2 linked regions of the Homo sapiens genome follow. The protein of the gene in region 1 purifies or fractionates together with the protein of each later gene. This does not show direct contact. Each region holds a gene or a part of one and is shown in the gene's direction. Other genes may lie near its edges.

The links. Proteins that work in one complex are often made in the same cells at the same time.
Region 2: the proteins of THBS3 (region 1) and ASCC3 purify together in Homo sapiens (affinity purification with mass spectrometry; 3 studies listed by BioGRID and IntAct, with this or other methods). This does not show direct contact.

What each region holds. Positions count from the first base shown.
Region 1 is NC_000001.11:155,201,398-155,204,909, reverse strand, and holds part of THBS3 (thrombospondin-3 isoform 1 precursor), read left to right. Parts: coding exon 1-55; intron 56-1,370; coding exon 1,371-1,397; intron 1,398-1,604; coding exon 1,605-1,687; exon of another isoform or gene 1,688-1,772; coding exon 1,773-1,824; intron 1,825-1,949; coding exon 1,950-2,098; intron 2,099-2,508; coding exon 2,509-2,649; intron 2,650-2,795; coding exon of another isoform or gene 2,796-2,875; coding exon 2,876-2,953; intron 2,954-3,340; coding exon 3,341-3,493; intron 3,494-3,512. UniProt on the Homo sapiens protein: Adhesive glycoprotein that mediates cell-to-cell and cell-to-matrix interactions. Can bind to fibrinogen, fibronectin, laminin and type V collagen.
Region 2 is NC_000006.12:100,647,200-100,651,173, reverse strand, and holds part of ASCC3 (activating signal cointegrator 1 complex subunit 3), read left to right. Parts: intron 1-459; coding exon 460-636; intron 637-3,722; coding exon 3,723-3,948; intron 3,949-3,974. UniProt on the Homo sapiens protein: ATPase involved both in DNA repair and rescue of stalled ribosomes. 3'-5' DNA helicase involved in repair of alkylated DNA: promotes DNA unwinding to generate single-stranded substrate needed for ALKBH3, enabling ALKBH3 to process alkylated N3-methylcytosine (3mC) within double-stranded regions.

The sequences.
Region 1 (3,512 bases):
GTAGGAGCCCTGAGTGAGTGTCCATTCCAAGGGGACGAGTCCATCCACAGTGCAGGTAACACAGAGACTTGTTTGCTGACATTGGACCACGGATCCTGTGGCCTTTGGTGACTCCTGTCTTCTTGATCTCCCTCTCCCTTAAAACCCATTCCTTTGGCTCACCTGTTCCTAGGGTTTCTAACCCTGTTATTCCAAATCTTTCACCTGACTCCACAATCTCCAATACACCCATCCGAGAAAAAAAGTGATCTAAGAGAAGAATTGGTTAATTGCTTGGCCTTGGCTGACCAAGAGATACTGGTCTCGAGTATTTTTTTTTTTTTTGGTGATGGAGTCTTGTCCTGTTGCCCAGGCCGGAGTGCAGTGGTGCAATCTGGGTCACTGCAGTCTCCACTGAGTTCAAGTGATTCTCCTGCCTCAGCCTCCCAAGCAGCTGGGATTACAGGCGCCCTCCACCATGCCTAGCTAATTTTTGCATTTTTAGTAGAGATGGGATTTCACCACGTTGGCCAGGCTGGTCTCAAACACCTAATCTCAAGTGATGCACCCACCTCGGCCTCTCAAAGTGCTGGGATTACAGGCGTAAGCCACCGCGCCCGGCCTGGTCTCGAGTCTTTTATAGTTCTCACTGGCAGCTGTCACCAGCAATTTCTCTGAGTGTTGCCCATCTGCCTGGTCTCTCTGACAGGGATGTTCAGAAGCTCTCACCTAAATAAAAGACCCACCTTTCCCAGATATTTGAGGGAGAGCTCTTGAAGAAGGGAATGGGATGGCGGGTGTGGTGGCTCACACCTGTAATCCCAGCACTTTGGGAGGCTGAGGTGGGCTGATCCCTCAAGGTCCGGAGTTCAAGACCAGCCTGGCCAACACTGTGAAACCTCCTCTCTACTAAAAAATACAAAAAATTAGCTGGGCATGGTGGTGGGCACCTGTAGTCCCAGCTACTTGGGAGGCGGAGGCAGGAGAGTTGCTTGAACCCAGGAGGTGGAGGTTGTGGTGAGCAGAGATCACGCCACTGCATTCCAGCCTGGGAAACAGAGCAAGACTCCGACTCAAAAAAAAAAAAAATGGGGATATACTGGGGCCCTGGCCCTGCTTTGGGTCCATCCCTTCTGCCACTACCATGCCTAGGAACCAGGAGGATTTGGGTTCTAACTTCCTGTGAAGCAACTCCCTTAGAGGGCCTTTTGCCCCATAGAAGGAGCTGGCACTGCTTGTCTGCCAGCTCTGCCCTCCCAGCATCCAGCACCCCATCTTTATTCTGGGGCTCCAGCCCTGTCCCTGTCCTCACCTTCCTTCCTCCTTCTCACCAACCAGGCCTCTCTTCACTTCACCTCACCCCTCTGACTATGTTTTCTTCTCCTCTCCAGTGACCAATGCACTGCACTCCATTCTAGGTGAGTAGGCCACACTGAAGCGGAAGCGGGGAGCGGGGAGGAGGCCCCAGGCTCTGGCAGCTGCCTGAAACTAAGTCCTCTTCAGTCAGGAATGTAGTAGGTTTAAAGGCAGGGGTGGGCAGCCGTGGCAGGTACTGGCTTATTGCCCATGGAGGGCCCAGGACTGGTGCTCCAGTACTGAACCCCTCACACCCTGGGTCCCGACAGGGGAGCAGACCAAGGCGCTGGTCACCCAACTCACCCTCTTCAACCAGATCCTGGTGGAGCTGCGGGATGATATACGAGACCAGGTTTGGGTGGGCTGGCGAAGGGTGGCACTGATTCTGGGGTAGGGTGGCAGATGTCAAGTGCTGACTCCTCCCCATCCTTCTCCAGGTGAAGGAAATGTCCCTGATCCGAAACACCATTATGGAGTGTCAGGTGTGCGGTGAGTGGGAGAGCAGGGGAGGCTCCACATGACCGTGCCACGTTCCCCACCCAATGGCTTTGGCTTTCCCTTCTGGTGGCTTAAATAGTGACCACCGGGTAGCTCTGACTGTGTCCACCCCTCAGGCTTCCATGAGCAGCGTTCCCACTGCAGCCCCAATCCCTGCTTCCGAGGTGTGGACTGCATGGAAGTGTACGAGTACCCAGGCTACCGCTGTGGGCCCTGCCCCCCTGGCCTGCAGGGCAACGGCACCCACTGCAGTGACATCAATGAGGTGAGGGAGGTCAGAGCCCAGAAGGGTACAGAAAACTGGGGTGAGGATGTCAGGAGGCACCCAAGAGGGTGGGATAAATGCTGGTCCGGAGGAGAGGAATCTGGAGTTTAGGAGAGGTCAGAGGCAAGAGAAATGCAAGATGGGAGAGACAGAAGGCCTGGGGCAAAGACTGAAGGCCATACAGGGAAGGAGCTGGGGAAACTGCAGGGGAGGCTTGAGATGGTGACCAGTGGCATGGGGAGGGAGAGAGGGAACCCCGAGGGAAGTGGGGTGGGGACCAGGAGCACAAGGCAGTTGTGTGGGGAGAGCTGCACAAAGGGGAGACCTGGAGCAATGGTTCCTGGATCACAGGCAGGGACCTGAGTTTCCCAGAGGGCGGCCTGACCTCTGCCTTCTCATCTGGTCCCCAGTGTGCTCACGCTGACCCCTGTTTCCCGGGCTCCAGCTGCATCAACACCATGCCCGGCTTCCACTGTGAGGCCTGTCCTCGAGGGTACAAGGGCACACAGGTGTCTGGTGTGGGCATTGACTATGCCCGGGCCAGCAAACAGGTCAGACTGGGTAGTGTGTGTGGACAAGGGATCTTGGCCTTGTAGAGGCCAGGGGCTTCTGGGTTGGACATGGGACCCTTGTGATGAATGGGACATGGATGGCTTTGCATCGGCTTTGGGTCTGGGCTTAATGTTGATGTTCACAGATAAGGCCATACCAGTGTCCTCTGCTGTATCTGAGGAGACCCACCATAGGTCTGGTTCCACCCAAAGTCTGCCCCTTCAGGTCTGCAATGACATCGATGAATGCAACGATGGCAACAATGGTGGCTGTGACCCAAACTCCATCTGCACCAACACTGTGGTGAGCTGAATATCCTGAGTGTATTCTGGGGTGGTGGGAATGGTAAAACCCCAACCCCCGCCCCTTCTTACCTTCAAATTTCCTGCTGCCTTTCCTCCTCCCCAGGGCACTACACAGATTAGGTGTTCACATGGACTTGGTTTGGAATACTGGTTTGCCTCTTGCTAGCTCTTTAGCAGGTTATTTAACTTTTCTGAGCCTCAGCTTCCTCATCTGAAAACTGAGGCTGTTATCCACCCTGAAAGGTTGTCATGATAACCTAAAGGAGATACTGATATGCCTGGCATAACTGAGTGCCCAGCCCACACTCCGCAGGTGGAGCAGTGCTGGTCCTGGGTGCCTGGTGGGCTCACCCTCCTTCCTAAGATGCTGCCTCTCCACTCTTAGGGCTCTTTCAAGTGTGGTCCCTGCCGCCTGGGTTTCCTGGGCAACCAGAGCCAGGGCTGCCTCCCAGCCCGGACCTGCCACAGCCCAGCCCACAGCCCCTGCCACATCCATGCTCACTGTCTCTTTGAACGCAATGGTGCAGTGTCCTGCCAGGTGAGCTAGGCTTCAGGCG
Region 2 (3,974 bases), on another chromosome or scaffold:
AATACTTTGAATCATAGTACTTCATGGCTTTAAGCTATGAATGTATTATACCATATAAAAATATATGACTATAATGAATGCATTTGAAGATAATTCAAGTTGCCCTAATCCAGTTGGGCAGAGGTTTTACTCTGGTCAAATAAAATATGAAATCTCATCAATTCAAGGATGGTGAGGTCAGAAGATTTAATTTTTTGGCATATCAAATTTTTATATGTCAATGGCAAATTTAATATTGGTGATGAATAATAAAATGTAATTGTATCAGCCTCAAGATCATTTCATATTGCAGTTTTTTAGCTACCTATGGAAAAATCATTGTTATTTAACTCTATGAAAGAAAAATGCTGCATTATAGTAAATGGAAACTCTTTAAAAACATGCAATGTATTTAATTTCAATGTGAAAAATTTAAATAAATCAGCCCCAAAATTCCAATAAATACATTGATTCTTCTAGGTCAGAGAAGAGGAAATAGAGGAGTTAGATACCTTATTAAGCAATTTTTGTGAACTCTCCACTCCTGGAGGTGTAGAGAATAGTTATGGGAAAATAAACATCTTACTTCAAACTTATATCAGCCGAGGAGAAATGGACAGTTTCTCCCTTATATCAGATTCTGCATATGTTGCACAGGTAAGTATCTTATTCCCTTCCAGTTTTCTCTTCCTTGAATATATTTAGAGGACCAAGGTGTTAATTCATGCTGTGCTATGAATGCATTGCTTTGTGACATGCTACCAAACCACCATTTTACTTAGAACTGTTTCTGCTAATTTGTAAATATTTTATGTAATCTATGCTCATAAAACAGGACTGGGGATGAGATTTGGTGACTGATAGGGCTTTTTTTGGTGATGTTGATGTTTCTTACAAAGTTTTAAAATGATACCTGATTTTTTTCTACTTTAAATGATGAATTTCATTTCTTTTACTTATAAAGTAAAAGAATATAAAGTACTTATAAAGAGAAAAGTTAAAGAATATTGCAAGCATAAAGAAAAGATTGTGGAACTTTTTTAGATTTTTACCAAATATTAGAAATAATAATATTTTTAATCATTAAACAAGGCGTAGTAAACATATTTCCTACCATACGTTCAGTGTGATGTCTCTGGTTTTTACAAAAGTAATCTCTCCTCTCTACTGTTGAAACTTAAACATTGAGGACAGAAAGAAAATTATTCCCTAAACTACAGCTCATTTAATTTATAACTTTTAAAAAATACCATGGTATAAACTGTTCAAATATTTGTGTTTTTATATTCAAGCCCTTATGTGAAGTAAAGTAGGTTATATTTTACCCTATTTATCCTTCAAATGAAAGATTTCCCTTCTAGACATACTTTTTTAAAAAAATTATTTACCTGTCAAGGCTTTTTAATTTTATTTTATTGAGTACTTCCTTTTATAAATTAAGAAGAAATTAAAGCTTAATTTTATTTTAAATATGGAAATGATTCTGCTGTTATATTTGTAATTTTGTTCAAAGAAAGACTAAATATAGAAAAAGAATGTTTGTGTTAAATATATCATTATTAATAGCCATGAGTACTCAGGAGTCCTTTAAACATGGAATATTTACAAACACAAACCAAGACATATTGGTAAACATTTTGAATGCATGTAGTAATTTAATCAATGTAACCAAGATACCAGGTTATATAATTCATAAATTATATAAAGTTAATATAGATGTAGTGAAAATATTTATATATTCTTTAAACCCTATAGCTTCTATAGGAATAATTTTCTAATCTCCTTTGTTTTATCTGTTTTTCTGTAAAGTAATGTAATATTGTCATTTTATATTTTCTAATGATTTTATATTGAAATAGTTAATCATTTAAATAAAAGGTAAAGTTTTACTGGGTTCTGGATGAATAATCTGGCAACATTTCTGCTTGCTTCAAGATTATGAAGATATTATCAGAGACTGACATAAGAATTGCTTACAATGTAAAACTTTAATTCTCTTCATGATTGGTATCCAGGAAGTCAACTTCTGATTAAGGATATCTCAAAGCATCCCTGTTTTTTCTTAAACAGCCATTATGGATTTAGCATCCCTGAATGCATCAGATAAATTATACTTTATTACATTTTAAGTTTAAGCTATCAGTAATTGAACAACTACTCTCTCAACTCTGTAAAATGATATTTTCTTCTATATTTTTTAAACTTTCTCTCCTCAGCCCCTAAGGTAAACCTATAGCTCAAATATTCTAGGATTTTATTTAAAGGCCTATGCTTAACTTTTCTAGACTGTACATGTTATAGACTTATTATTTTGAACCAATTTATATCATTCTAGATTAACATGTCCTGTTTGTATCTTGTCATATGGAATTTCTCCTACTTCTTTTAGCATTGAGGGGATAACTGTAGATCCTGAAATATTAAAATGACATACTTTCAAAGGCAGGAAAATTAGCCTGATAGTTTTTTGTAAGAACAAGTGGGAATGAGGTAGGAAAACCTATTTGGTAGATACAGTAATCAAAATTTTATTTATTATTCTCTGGGCCTTATAAAGACCCATTCAGTCATTTTTAATGGATATCAGAACTGTCCTCATACTTCTATCTACCATTTTGTACTTTAATTTCTAATACTGAAACAAAATAGTCAAATTTATCAAAAGACAGCGCATATCTTATATAAAATGTGAAATGAAAGCCTTTAACTCATCTGTCATTTTTGACTTCATAATTTTAGGCTGGATTGTTTGTCTGCCATTTGAAATCTTTTCAGTTTTGTATCTCTTGTTTGGATTTTAACCAGACTGAACATTCTTTATTTTCAAATACAGATGTTACTGGATTTTGGAAGGTATAAGTTCATTTAAAAAACAATCTTTAATAAAACAATCTGCAAAGTTAATGATAGAGGAGTGGAGGCAAAATAAATGGGAGCTAGCTGTAGAAATGTGAAGAAAAAGACTACATTCATTATAACTTTCTATATGTCTATTAATAAAGTTATCCTCAGACCACTGAGTCTAGAATCTCAGTTATATTTGGAGTCCTTTAGTCCTGGCTTTGAGTAGATGCTCTGACACCAACTAGCAGTGTGACCTTGGTCAAATTTTTTACCTCTTTAAGCCCTAGTATATTCATCTATAAAATCATAATATTAATATCAATTAAATGCAATTTTTGTAAAAGTTAAATGAGGCAATATATGTAAAGCAAGTTAACACATTGTTTGGTTTATAGGAAGCCATTTGTATGGCCCTTTCATATGAGTAGCTACACTAATCAGTATTTCATTTGTCACCCTTCTCTCATTATTTTTTTTCCCTATCAGGATCCCAGTCTTCCTTAATCCTCTAAATAGCCTTGTAAATTTAATCATTCCACTATTCACCAAGAGGCGTCCTTGTCTCTTATAGTCAGATGCCTTAACAGCCTCCTAAATATTTTGCATGCCTTTTGTCTCTTCCTACTTCATTCCTGTTTAGAAGGTAGAGCTTTCTAAGAACTTGGAAATAAGGCTTCCCCTCTGAGAGTAAGCAAGTAGCATCCACATATAAAGGATAGGATTATTCTTATGTAGAAATAATAAGATAATTAGGATTATATGAGAAAAGATATTGCCCCACAATTCAAGGATGCAGCTTGACTTGCACTTCTTTTCAGACTGAGTTTGAATAATAGATTTATTGACAAATTTAAAAGCACATTGGGTATAACCACCAATCTCCTCCTATAATTTTTTAGAATGCAGCTAGAATTGTCCGTGCTCTTTTTGAAATTGCTCTGAGGAAACGTTGGCCTACCATGACCTACAGGCTCCTGAATCTTAGTAAAGTCATTGACAAGAGGCTTTGGGGTTGGGCTAGCCCTTTGAGACAATTTTCAATCCTACCACCACACATCCTAACAAGATTAGAAGAAAAAAAGCTTACTGTGGATAAGCTGAAAGACATGAGGAAAGATGAAATAGGTAAGAAGGAAGCAAATATGTTTGAA